2 separate regions of the Homo sapiens genome follow, and region 1 is linked to region 2. The links come from fine-mapping of genetic effects on gene expression. A gene starts in region 2. The other region holds a variant in brackets. All regions are shown on one strand. Distances are from middle to middle. Region 1 overlaps HDGFL2 (HDGF like 2). Region 2 holds the start of HDGFL2 (HDGF like 2).

Evidence for each region. PIP is the estimated chance that this variant, and not a neighbour inherited with it, causes the effect.
Region 1: its variant is the best candidate, but not a certain one, in a credible set for the expression of HDGFL2 in skeletal muscle (GTEx, PIP 0.84).

Annotation. Positions count from the first base shown.
Region 1 is chr19:4,499,841-4,505,132 of GRCh38, reverse strand. It overlaps HDGFL2 (HDGF like 2), which reads right to left. Exons shown (of 16, transcript NM_001001520.3): 15 at 3,816-3,942; 16 at 2,926-3,222. The coding sequence ends at 3,123. PLIN4 (perilipin 4) reads left to right here. Exons shown (of 8, transcript NM_001367868.2): 7 at 186-272; 8 at 348-2,941. The coding sequence ends at 674. Among named protein-coding and RNA genes, the nearest start is that of PLIN4, 16 kb to the left of the region's middle. The variant A/G (reference allele first, on the strand shown) is at 2,944.
Region 2 is chr19:4,468,945-4,474,251 of GRCh38, reverse strand. HDGFL2 (HDGF like 2) reads right to left here and starts at 1,955. Exons shown (of 16, transcript NM_001001520.3): 1 at 1,830-1,955. The coding sequence starts at 1,901. RefSeq lists enhancers at 1-40, 2,530-2,879, 3,140-3,309 and silencers at 1,760-1,819, 1,850-2,029.

The DNA.
Region 1 (5,292 bases), 31 kb before region 2:
GGGAAGTTTGAACTATTGCCTCTTTCTGCAAGACAACACGCCCACTGTGGTACAACTGACTTGGAACTCGTGGCCTTTCTCCCAGGACTGTGAATGTGCCCAGGTCCCTGGGGGAGGGGGAGGTGGGGGTTGTGAAAGGTCATTTGCCAAGAAGCCATCATTTCCCCACTGTACTCTCTCTCCAGATTGAAAAGGCCCAGCAGGCTCCAGAAGGGCAGCCACGTCTGGACCAGGGCTCAGGTGCCAGTGCGGAGGACGCTGCTGTCCAGGAGGTGGGTCTGGCACAGGGCTAGGGTCCCCCCACCCCGCCCATGGGTCTCCACTCACCTTGCGCCTTCCTCCCACAGGAGCGGGATGCCGGGGTTCTGTCCAGGGTCTGCGGCCTTCTCCGGCAGCTGCACACGGCCTACAGTGGCCTGGTCTCCAGCCTCCAGGGCCTGCCCGCCGAGCTCCAGCAGCCAGTGGGGCGGGCGCGGCACAGCCTCTGTGAGCTCTATGGCATCGTGGCCTCAGCTGGCTCTGTAGAGGAGCTGCCCGCAGAGCGGCTGGTGCAGAGCCGCGAGGGTGTGCACCAGGCTTGGCAGGGGTTAGAGCAGCTGCTGGAGGGCCTACAGCACAATCCCCCGCTCAGCTGGCTGGTAGGGCCCTTCGCCTTGCCCGCTGGCGGGCAGTAGCTGTAGGAGCCTGCAGGCCCGGCGCGGGGTCGCCCTGCTCTGTCCAGGGAGGAGCTGCCTCAGAACTTTCTCCCCGCCCCCAAACCTGGATCGGTTCCCTAAAGCCCTAGACCTTTGGGGCTGCAGCTGGCTGAGCGCCGAGGGGCTGCGGAGGCAGTGACCTTCTTAACTGAGCCACCCCACGCCCTGCTCCGGGCCTGCCTGCATCTCCCACCTCCTCCCCAGCGCTGCCTGCCCCTCTCGGAGCCTGGGGTCACTCAGACCACCAGCCAAGAGCCTTCCCTTGAAGTCCCCAAGCAAGCACTGCAATTAGGAAAGAGAAAAAGCAGCGTGCCCAGCCTGGAAGGGCATCTGTTTGCCCCGCTAGCAACCCTTTTATATCTAGCAGGGCTCTTCCAGTCCTGCAGCACGGGCCCCCAGCTATCAGCGGTGCAGGCAGTGCTGTGGCATCCCAGGCTCCGGGCAGCTCCGTTCTCATGCTGAAAGTGGGTCTCCGGCCTTAGCACACACACCTTGAGGGTCTTAAGAACCACATTCCCTCATAGTAGAAAGTACTAGAAAAAGCGACACTGCCATCATCATCCCAAGGCAGGCTGCTACTGCCTTTGCTGACCCCCGGGGTGGCCTCACGGTGGGGACAAAGCTGCCAGGAGCCACAGCAGCCACAGCTGGGGCTTTGCACCAGCCTGGCTTGAGACTGAGCAGTTTGCAGGGGGTGGGGGGTGCAAAAAACAAGCAAACAGGCTGCTGCTGCCTCCAGCTGCCCACCACAGGCCTGCCCCAGGCACCTGGGGCTCTGAGGCCCCTGGGGAGGCTGGGCCCAGCAGCTGCCCCTGGAGAACACAGACAAAGGACTTCCCCGCAGGGAACTGTGCCCTATGGAGGGATCAGACAGGGCTGGGAACAGCCACAGAGGCTGCGTGCCTATGGCACAGCCCTTCCTCCGCCGCACACTCCCCCTGGGTCCTCAGGCCCACCCAAGCGCCGGGCTGCAGAGGAAGCGGGGCTGGGGAGGCTGCAGGCATCAGAGACACTGGTGGTGGCGGACCCGGCCGCCGGGCCCCGTGCTCTCAGGCTAGCCCAGGTCGTGGAGGCTGGCAGGCTCAGGTCGGGTGTGAGACGTGCCGTGGCTGCGCTCAGTCCAGCGGGGAGGAGCCGTTCAGCCCGGCCTCCCCAGGAAGCCATATCCCCACTCACCCGGTAAGAGAACCTTGTCGTCCCCTTTCCATGCTCTCCTAGGACACGAGCCCAGGAACCCCAGACCCAGGGGGAGGAAGGGTGGAGGGGCCCCAGGGGTCACCGTGTGCACCAGGGGCCGTGAGGGGCCGGGGCATTCAGCTCAGCTCTGAACCGGGGAAGCTGGCACGGCAAGGACTGCCTCAGGTGACGGGCCGTGAGAGGGGACGGGTCAGGAGCCTTCCCAAGCCTTCTCCTCAGCCCGACACCCATGGCCATCGGAGGCTAGGATGCCAGACACAGCCATTTGCAGAAATCAGGCACAGTGACTGCAGCTCACGTCCAGCCAACCAAGCATGGGGCCGCAGCTCAGGAAGTCCCTTCCCGCCACACCACAGCCTAATTCTTACTGGGACGGAGGCAACTCGGCTACGCTGGGCAGGACGACAAACACGAGACGCCACTGTGGAATGAGCAACTTCGGAGCACGGGGTGACTTGCTTGGGACCGTGCCCACGTGACAGCCCCTTATGCAGAGGAGGAAAGAGAAGCCCCGAGTGGGAGGGGAACCTGTCCAAAGTCACACGGTGTGTGGGTGACACAGCTGGGGTGAGTCGAGGCTGGCCCCTGAGGCCCATGCTCCCTGAACGCTGGAGACCACTGTCGGCTAGCAGCGGCTCTCAGGGAAGGCCTGGTCTCCACCCTCCCAGCCTAGCCTCGCGGACCCTCGTCCTCCCCACATCGGACCTGCTCACCTGCCTGGACCCTGGGCTGCCAGATGCAGGAAGCATCAAACCCCCCAGCCTCGTGGGTGCGGGGCAGGGCGCAGGCAGCACAGCTTAGATGCCCTGGTTTGTCCCTCTTGTCTCCTGGGAAGAGCTTGCTCCCGCCCAGCTCTCCTGCCACTGGCCTTTCAGGGTTGGGCTGGGCCCAGAGTGCCTTTTAGTCGCTTCTCACGGTGGCCTGATGGCTCAACCCAGTCCCAAACGGGCCCAGTGACACTGCCGCCTGCGCCCCAGCTCAGGCCCCCACTGCACCAGCAATGCTAGAAAACCAAGCCAATAAAAGTGATTTCTTTTTTCATTAAAAAACC[A/G]TTTATAGTCATTTCATGTTGGTTGGAAATCACAGAAATTAGGCAGGAAAAAAAAACCCAAGGGAACAAATACAAACAGCACAGCGTTCCCCACAGTTCTCTGCTCTGCTCTCCTGCGAGCCGGGGAAGGAGAGGGGCAGCCTGAGCTCGGGCGGGGGCTGGGCCTGGCTGCCCGCGGCTCAGCTCTCCTCGTCCAGGGCCTCCGAGTCCCCCCGTGCCCTCTCGCGCTCCTGCCGGTCGCTCCCAGGCCTGTCCAGGTCGGGACCCTCCCGTACGCTGCTGGTGGGAACAGCAAAGGCGGTGTGAGGATGCCCTCCCGCCCCTGCCCTGCCTGTAGGGCGGTTGGGTGGGATGGGCACCGAGGAGTGTACCCCCGTTGTGGCACCTGAGGCTCGAGTGCCGCCCTCCTATCTGCCTGTCTTCTGCCACTAGAGACCACAACCATCTCCAGGGTCCCCACGCTGGCGCCAGCCAGGCATAGCACAAGGCAGCTGCTGGGTAAGTGAGTGACTCCACTGAGCCTTGTACCAGACAGCAGCCCACAGTGATGGGCACAGGCACCGTCAGATAGCCGGGTGCCCGTGCTCGGGGCCTACCTACCTGGGCCACCCTGGAGGCTCGGCAAGAAGCCACCTTCCCAGGAGGCCAGGGGCAGGCAGCTCAAAGCCCTGGAGCTGCCTCTCTGTAGGGGCCGCCGGAAGTGCCAGCCAGCGGGGCCCTGGGGTCAGCTGTGAAGGTGGGAGGCCCGAGTAAGGACGACATCCCTGGGACCCATCCCAGAGGGACTGGCACAGGAGGAGCGGCTCGGACCCAGGGTGCGCGTCACACCGCTGCCGCTCAGGAGTCCAAACCCCACGGCCCGGGACACTCACTCGTGCAGGTCTTCAGAGGAGCCACACCTTGGCCCCTCCTCCGAGTCCCGACCCTCCTCGTGCTCCTTGTCCTCTGCGCTCTCCCCCTTCTGTGATGTGGCCTCGCCATTCACTGGGGCTGAGAGATCTGGGTGGGACAGAGGGGTCACAGGACACTGCTGGGCTCCAGCTGGGCACCCCAGAACCCTTGCCTGTCAAGGACTGGACCAGGGGCCAAGCTGAGCGCCGTGGGTGACACATGCCCATCCACCTGGACCCCAGCACCTGCTGTCCAGTCTGCAAGCTCCTGACATGGGATGCTGCAGCCAGCCCCAGCCCGAGCCACACTGGCCTGCAGAACTGGGGGCCCAAGAAATGAGGGAACGTGGGCAGCCCTGAGAAAAGCCCACAGCAGCCTGGGAAAGACAAAGGAAGACAAGGTCGGGCACGGGGGCTCACAATCCCAGCACGTGGGAGGCCGAGACGTGAGGCTCACTTGAGCCCAGGAGTTCAAGACCAGCCTGAGTAACATGCCAGCAACCCTGTCTCTACAAAAAATACAAAAATTAGCACGTCCTGGCAGGGCGCAGTGGCTCACGCCTGTAATCCCAGCACTTTGGGAGGCCGAGGAGGGCGGATCATGAGGTCCAGAGATTGACACCATCCTGGATAACACGGTGAAACCCCATCTCTACTAAAAAATACAAAATATTAGCCTGGTGTGGTGTTGGGTGCCTGTAGTCCCAGCTCCTCGGGAGGCTGAGGCAGGAGAATGGCGTGAACCCAGGAGGCGGAGCTTGCAGTGAGCCAAGATCACGCTACTGCACTCCAGCCTGGGGGACAGAGCAAGACTCCGTCTCAAAAAAAAAAAAAAAAAAAAAAAAAATTAGCAGGGCATAGTGGTGTAGGCCTACAATCCCAGCTCCTCAGGAGGCTGAGGTGGAGGATGGCTTGCGCCCAGGAAGTCAAGGTTGCAGTGAGCTGTGATTGTACCACTGCACTCCAGCCTGGGGGACAGAGCGAGACCCCATCTCAGAAAAAAAAGAAAAAAGAAAAAAAAGACACTAGCCTTCGGCTGCCCCCTGGGCCGCAAAGCCCCATCCCAAGCTCGCCCATCCCATCTCCAAAGGGCTGCTCTGAGCACCTGTAATGGGGCCATGTCAGCCCAGTAGCCCCACAGCCAGCAGCCCCGAGGGTCACACCTCATCTCCTGTCGGCCCACCAGGCAAGCAAGGGCACCTGAGGCCTCCGCCCCCGAGCCTCCACCGACTGCCTCTCTGAACAATGCCCCCACTCTTTGCCCCCGCTGCACAGAGCCACCCCCCTCTCTGGGCGTCCCAGGGTGGGAGACGGTGGAGGCGTGTGCTGTCATGCACTGTCCCCGTCACCCCTCTGGCGTGAGCCCCAAGTTACCTGCATGCTGGCTGCCTGGCACACGGTAGGACCTGAATGCCCCTCACTGGCTGCCCCAGGGATTAAAGCCGGGTCTGCACGGAGA
Region 2 (5,307 bases):
TGGTCCAGAGCACCGTTTGGTGTCCCCCTCCACAGCCCCTCCCTGCTGCCCCAGCCTTCCACCCCCAGTGCCAAATTCCTCAGTCCTGCCCGGCAAATTCCACCAACCTCAGCCCTGGGAGACTCAGCCCTAAGACCTGGGGATGACAATAGCCTGGGGTCCCTGCTTCCCGCTGGCCTGTACCTCTCAGGGCCTGGAACTCACCCCCTCCACACCTGGGACTCCAAGGTGCGGAATATCCTTCAGGCCAGGACACCTGGGACTATCCAGGTCGTCGGGACCCCAGCTTCCACCAAAGGGGCATCCAAGGTCCCCTCGGCCAGCCCCCTTCCCTCAGAAGCGCTCCCACTCCCTGGGCCCGGGCCTGTCTCCATTTCAAGCATTGGGGTTGGACCACCCCACCCTCAAGTCCCTCCAAAACCAGCTTCTACATCCTCCTCCCCACAGGGGACCAATCCCCAGGGTCCCCCAACAGTCCCGATGCCAACTTCATTCTAAGGTCCAGTTCCCCGAGTCCCAGTGACCCCGTGAACAGAGCCCCGAGCCCCATTCCCCCACCCCCAGCCCCTCACTCAGAGGTCCCAGCTTCCCTTAGCCTTGACCCTCAACCTTCCCCCCTGACTGCCTCCTCCAACCCTGGACCCCTAGCACATGGCCCTCGGCCCCCCAGCCCCTCAAAACTGGGCTTCTCCAGGACCCACAAGGGAGTGCTTCAGCCCCCATATCTGACCCCAAATCTCAAGTTCCGCAGTTCTGCTCAAACTTGAACCTTGAGCCCTCAGGCCTGGGATCCCCAGGCCCTCAGGTGAGGGTCCCTCAGGTCCCAGACCCTCCCAGACACCCTGCGCACGGCTCCCTGAGGCACCCTGGACACCCCCAGACACACGAGGCGTGGCTCCCTCTGGGCCAGGGCAACCCCAGATCCCCATGGTGCAGCTCCCTCAGGCACAGAAGCCCCAGACCCCCAGAGCGCAGCTTCCTCAGGCCCAGGACCCCCAGACCATTGGCGCCGCAGCTCCTTCAGGCCCTGGACACCCCCCAGATCCCCACGGCGCAGCTCCCTCAGGTCCAGGACCGCCATTCCCCCAGAGTGAGAATTTATCAGGCCCCAGACCCCCAGGGCACCGCTTCCTCGGGCCCGGGACCCCCAGACCGTCGGCGCGCGGCTCTTTCAGGCCCCAAACACCCCCAAACCCCCAAGGTGCGACTCCCTCGGGCCCAGGATACCCCCAGACTCCCAGGGAGCGACTCTCTGAGCCCCAAAACCCTCATACACCAAGGGCGAGAGTCTCTCAGGCCGCAGACACCCTCAGAACCCCTAGGCGCGGCCCCCTGAGGCCCAGGGCCCCCAGACCCCGGGGCGCGGCTCCTGCAGGGCTTGGACACCCCCAGAACCCCAGGACGCAGCTCCCTGAGGCCGAGGACCCCCAGACCCCGGGAGGGGCTCCTGCAGGCCCAGACGGCGGGTCCTGCAGGATCCGAACACCACCAGACCACAAGAACGCGGCTCCCTGCAGCCCAGGACCCCCAGGCCCCGAGGGCGGGGCTCCCTGAGGCCCAGGATCCCTAGACCCCGGGGCGCGGCTCCGGCAGGCCCCGGACAACCCCAGACCCCTAGGGCGCAGCTCCCTGCGGCCCAGGACCCCCAGACCCCCAGGGCGGGGCCGCTGCGGGTCTCGGACACCCCCAGACCCCATGAACCCCAGACCCCCGGGGCGCAGCTCCTTCAGGCCCAGGACAACCCCGGCCCTCCAGTGCCCGCCTCCGGCCCGGGGCCCCCGCTGCCCCCCCCCCCCCCCCCACCGGCCCCATCTCCCGCGCGGCCTCACCCTGGCAGGCCAGTGAGGGTAGCCCTTCATCTTAGCGAACACCAAGTCCCCGGGCTTGAAGGCGTGTGGCATGCTGACGGCGAGAGGCCCAGGCCGCGGAAAGCGGCTGCAGCGGCGGTAGCGGCTGCGGCGGCGGCGGCGGCGGCAGCGGGAGGCGAAGCCGGGGGCGGGAGCGGGACGCCGAGGGGGCGGGGGAGGCTGTCTGGGCAGCCTGCCGACGCGCGCTTATTGGGCGTTGCGCCAACGGAAGTTCAGCCCTCCGGCCGTCACGGGCCGGCAAAGCCGTCGATCAGGACCACGTGCAGGGGACAGAGAAGGGAGGCGACCAATAAGAACAGAGGTTGGAGCACAGCAGTTAACGGGATTGGATAACGGACAGACCCAAGGGGCGTAACCCAGAGACTCTAATGGGAGGTTATGGGAGGTGAAAGGGAAAGGTGGGAGGAGACGAACAGACGCTCTAAGGGAGTGAAGGGGTGGAGCTTAAGGGAAAGAGGCAGGACATAGACCTCCACAAGAGAAGGGGATATAAGGAGGGCAGAACATTGGATACCGCAGAAAAGAAGGCCAATCACTTAACGCAATGGGCGGGTCATTGACAGCCTCTCCCGCTCAGGAGGAGAGGCTTAAAGTAGATATGCAAGCCATTGGATACCACAAGAGAAGCGCCTCAAGGTAGGGAGCAGGCATTGGCCATCACAAGAGGCGGGGCTTCAGCGGGAACGTCGGCCATTGGCTATCGAAAGAAGAGCGATACAACATAAAACAGGGACGGGCGATTGCCAGCTCGAGGAGGCGGGACTTAGAGGAAGGGGCAGGCTCCGGGGGAGCTCTTAGTATAAACAGCCACAAAATGCACAAAATAGTTATTTCTTCACTTAGTTAAAAACTTAACTGAGTACCTACTATATGCCAGGGCCCCAAAACGCCACACAGACCTATTCATTCATTCAAGAAAAATGTACTGAATACCGTGGGGCCGAGTCACTTGATTGTCCTGGGCTTCGCTCTCTGCACTTGGAAGATGGGGCCCATAATGATTGTGAGGACCCTGCTCTAGACTGAGCCCGGCAACAGGAAATACAGGAAGTATTAGAAGCTATAACTCGGCCGGACGCGATGGCTCACGGCTGTAACCCCGGCACTTTGAGAGGACGAAGCGGGCGGATCACGAGGTCAGGAGTTTGAGACCAAGCCTGGCCAACATGGTGAAACCCCGTCTCTACTAAAAATACAAAAATTAGCTGGGCGTGGTGGCACGCACCTATACCAGCTACTCAGGAAGCTGAGGCAGGAGAATCACTCGAACCCAGGAGCGGGGGGTTGCAGTAAGCCGAGATCGCGCCACTGCACTCCAGACTGGGTGACAGAGCAGAAAAAAAAAAGCTATAACTCTACCTTCCGGCAGGGCGTGGTGGCTCACGCCTGTAATCCCAGCACTTTGGGAGGCCGAGGTGGGTGGATCACGAGGTCAGGAGATCGAGACCATCCTGGCTAACATAGTGAAACCCCGTCTCGACTAAAAATACAAAAAAAATAGCTAGGCGTGGTGGCAGGCGCCTGTAGTCCCAGCTACTAGGGAGGCTGAGGCAGGAGAATGGCCTGACCCCGGGAGGCGGAGCTTGCAGTGAGCCGAGATCGTGCCACTGCACTCCAGCCTGGGCGACAGCGCGAGACTCTGTCTCAAAAAAAAAACAAAAACAAAAAACAAAACTCTACCTTCCAGGAATCAAGTATAACAGGGCCAAGAAATGTTAAGTTTTAAAATTTGTTGATGTTGCTGTGTTTTGTTTTGTTTTTTGTAATTAGGATCCATGGTAAGAACTAAAATGAACCAGGGTGCTTGAGGAAAAAAAGCTGAATAATGGAGACGACTTCTTCTCTCCTGGGGGATCACAGAGGGTTACTGGATGAAGTGAGTTTAACCAGACACTGGGAGAATGAATAGAAGTTGGACATGATAGTGAGGCGAGCCCTGGGAGGGCATGAGGAGCAGAGGGAAGAGCAAAAACAAGCGTCTGATCCTCACTTAAGGTCAGGAGTACGAGACCAGCCTGGCCAACATGGTGAAATCCCATCTCTAGAAAAAATACAAAAATTAGCCGGGCGTGGTGGTGGGCGCCTATACTCCTAGCTACTTGGGAGGCTGAGGCAGGATAATCACTTGAACCTGGGAGGCGGAGGGTGCAGTGAGCCGAGATCACGCCGTTACACTACAACCTGGGTGACAGAGCGAGACTCCGTTGCAAAAAACAAACGAGACCGGGCGCGGTGGCTCACGCCTGTAATCCCAACACTTTGAGAGGCCGAGGCGGGTAGATCACTTGAAGTCAGGAGTTTGAGACCACCCTGGCCAACATGGTGAAACCGCATCTCTACTAAAAATACAAAAAATTAGCCAGGCGTGGTGGCAGGCGCCTGTAATTCCAGCTACTCGGGAGGCTGAGGCACGAGAATCACTTGAACCCGGGAAGCGGAGGTTGCAGTGAGCCAAGATCATGCCACTGCACTCCAGCCTGGGTGACAGAGCGAGACTTTGATTCAAAAAAAAAAAGAAAAGAAAAGAAAAAGCAAACAAGCAAAAACAAGAACAACAACAGCAACAACAAAAAACCCATCTGATCCTAGGATGACTGTGTGTGAGTAGGGGAAACAGATAAAGCTGGAGGGCTGGAGGGGTCCGTAGAGGACCTATCACAATACATTACAAACATAAATGAGAAGTTTGGGTTTTATTTTAACTTCTTGGGAAACTATTGGGGGGATCTGATCAGAGGATACAAAGAGAGTATTTTATTCTCAAAAAACATCCCTATGCATGTGAAATATGGATCAACAAAGACCATTTCTTTAAAACTGAAACGTAAGGCCTGGCATGGCATCTCACACCAGTAATCCCAGCACGACTGAGGTGGAAAATTCGCTTGAGCCCAGGAGTTCGAGACCAGCCTGAGCAACATGGTTAAACCCCATCTCTACAAAAAATATAAAAATCAGTTGGGCATGATCCGCACACTTCTACTCTGAGCTACTCAGGAGGCTGAGGAATGAGGATCGAGCCCAGGGAGGCAATGGTTGCAGTGAGCTGAGATTGCACCACTGCACTCCATCCTGGGCAACAGAGCTAGACCCTGTTTCAAAAAAATACAATAGGCCGGGCGCGGTGGCTCACGCCTGTAATCCCAGCACTTTGGGAGGCTGAGGTGGGCAGATCACGAAGTCAGGAGTTTGAGACCAGGGCAGCCAACATAGTGAAACCCCATGTCTACTGAAAAACAAAAATTAGCTGGGCATGATGGTGTGTGCCTGTAGTCCCAGCTACTCAGGAGACTGAGGCAGGGAGAATCGCTTGAACCCGGAGGGGGCGGTTGCAGTGAGCCGAGATTGCGCCACTGCACTGCAGCTTGGGCAACAGAGTTAGACTTCGTCTCAAAAAAATAAATAAATAAAATAAAAATTAAACATAGGCCAGGTGCCG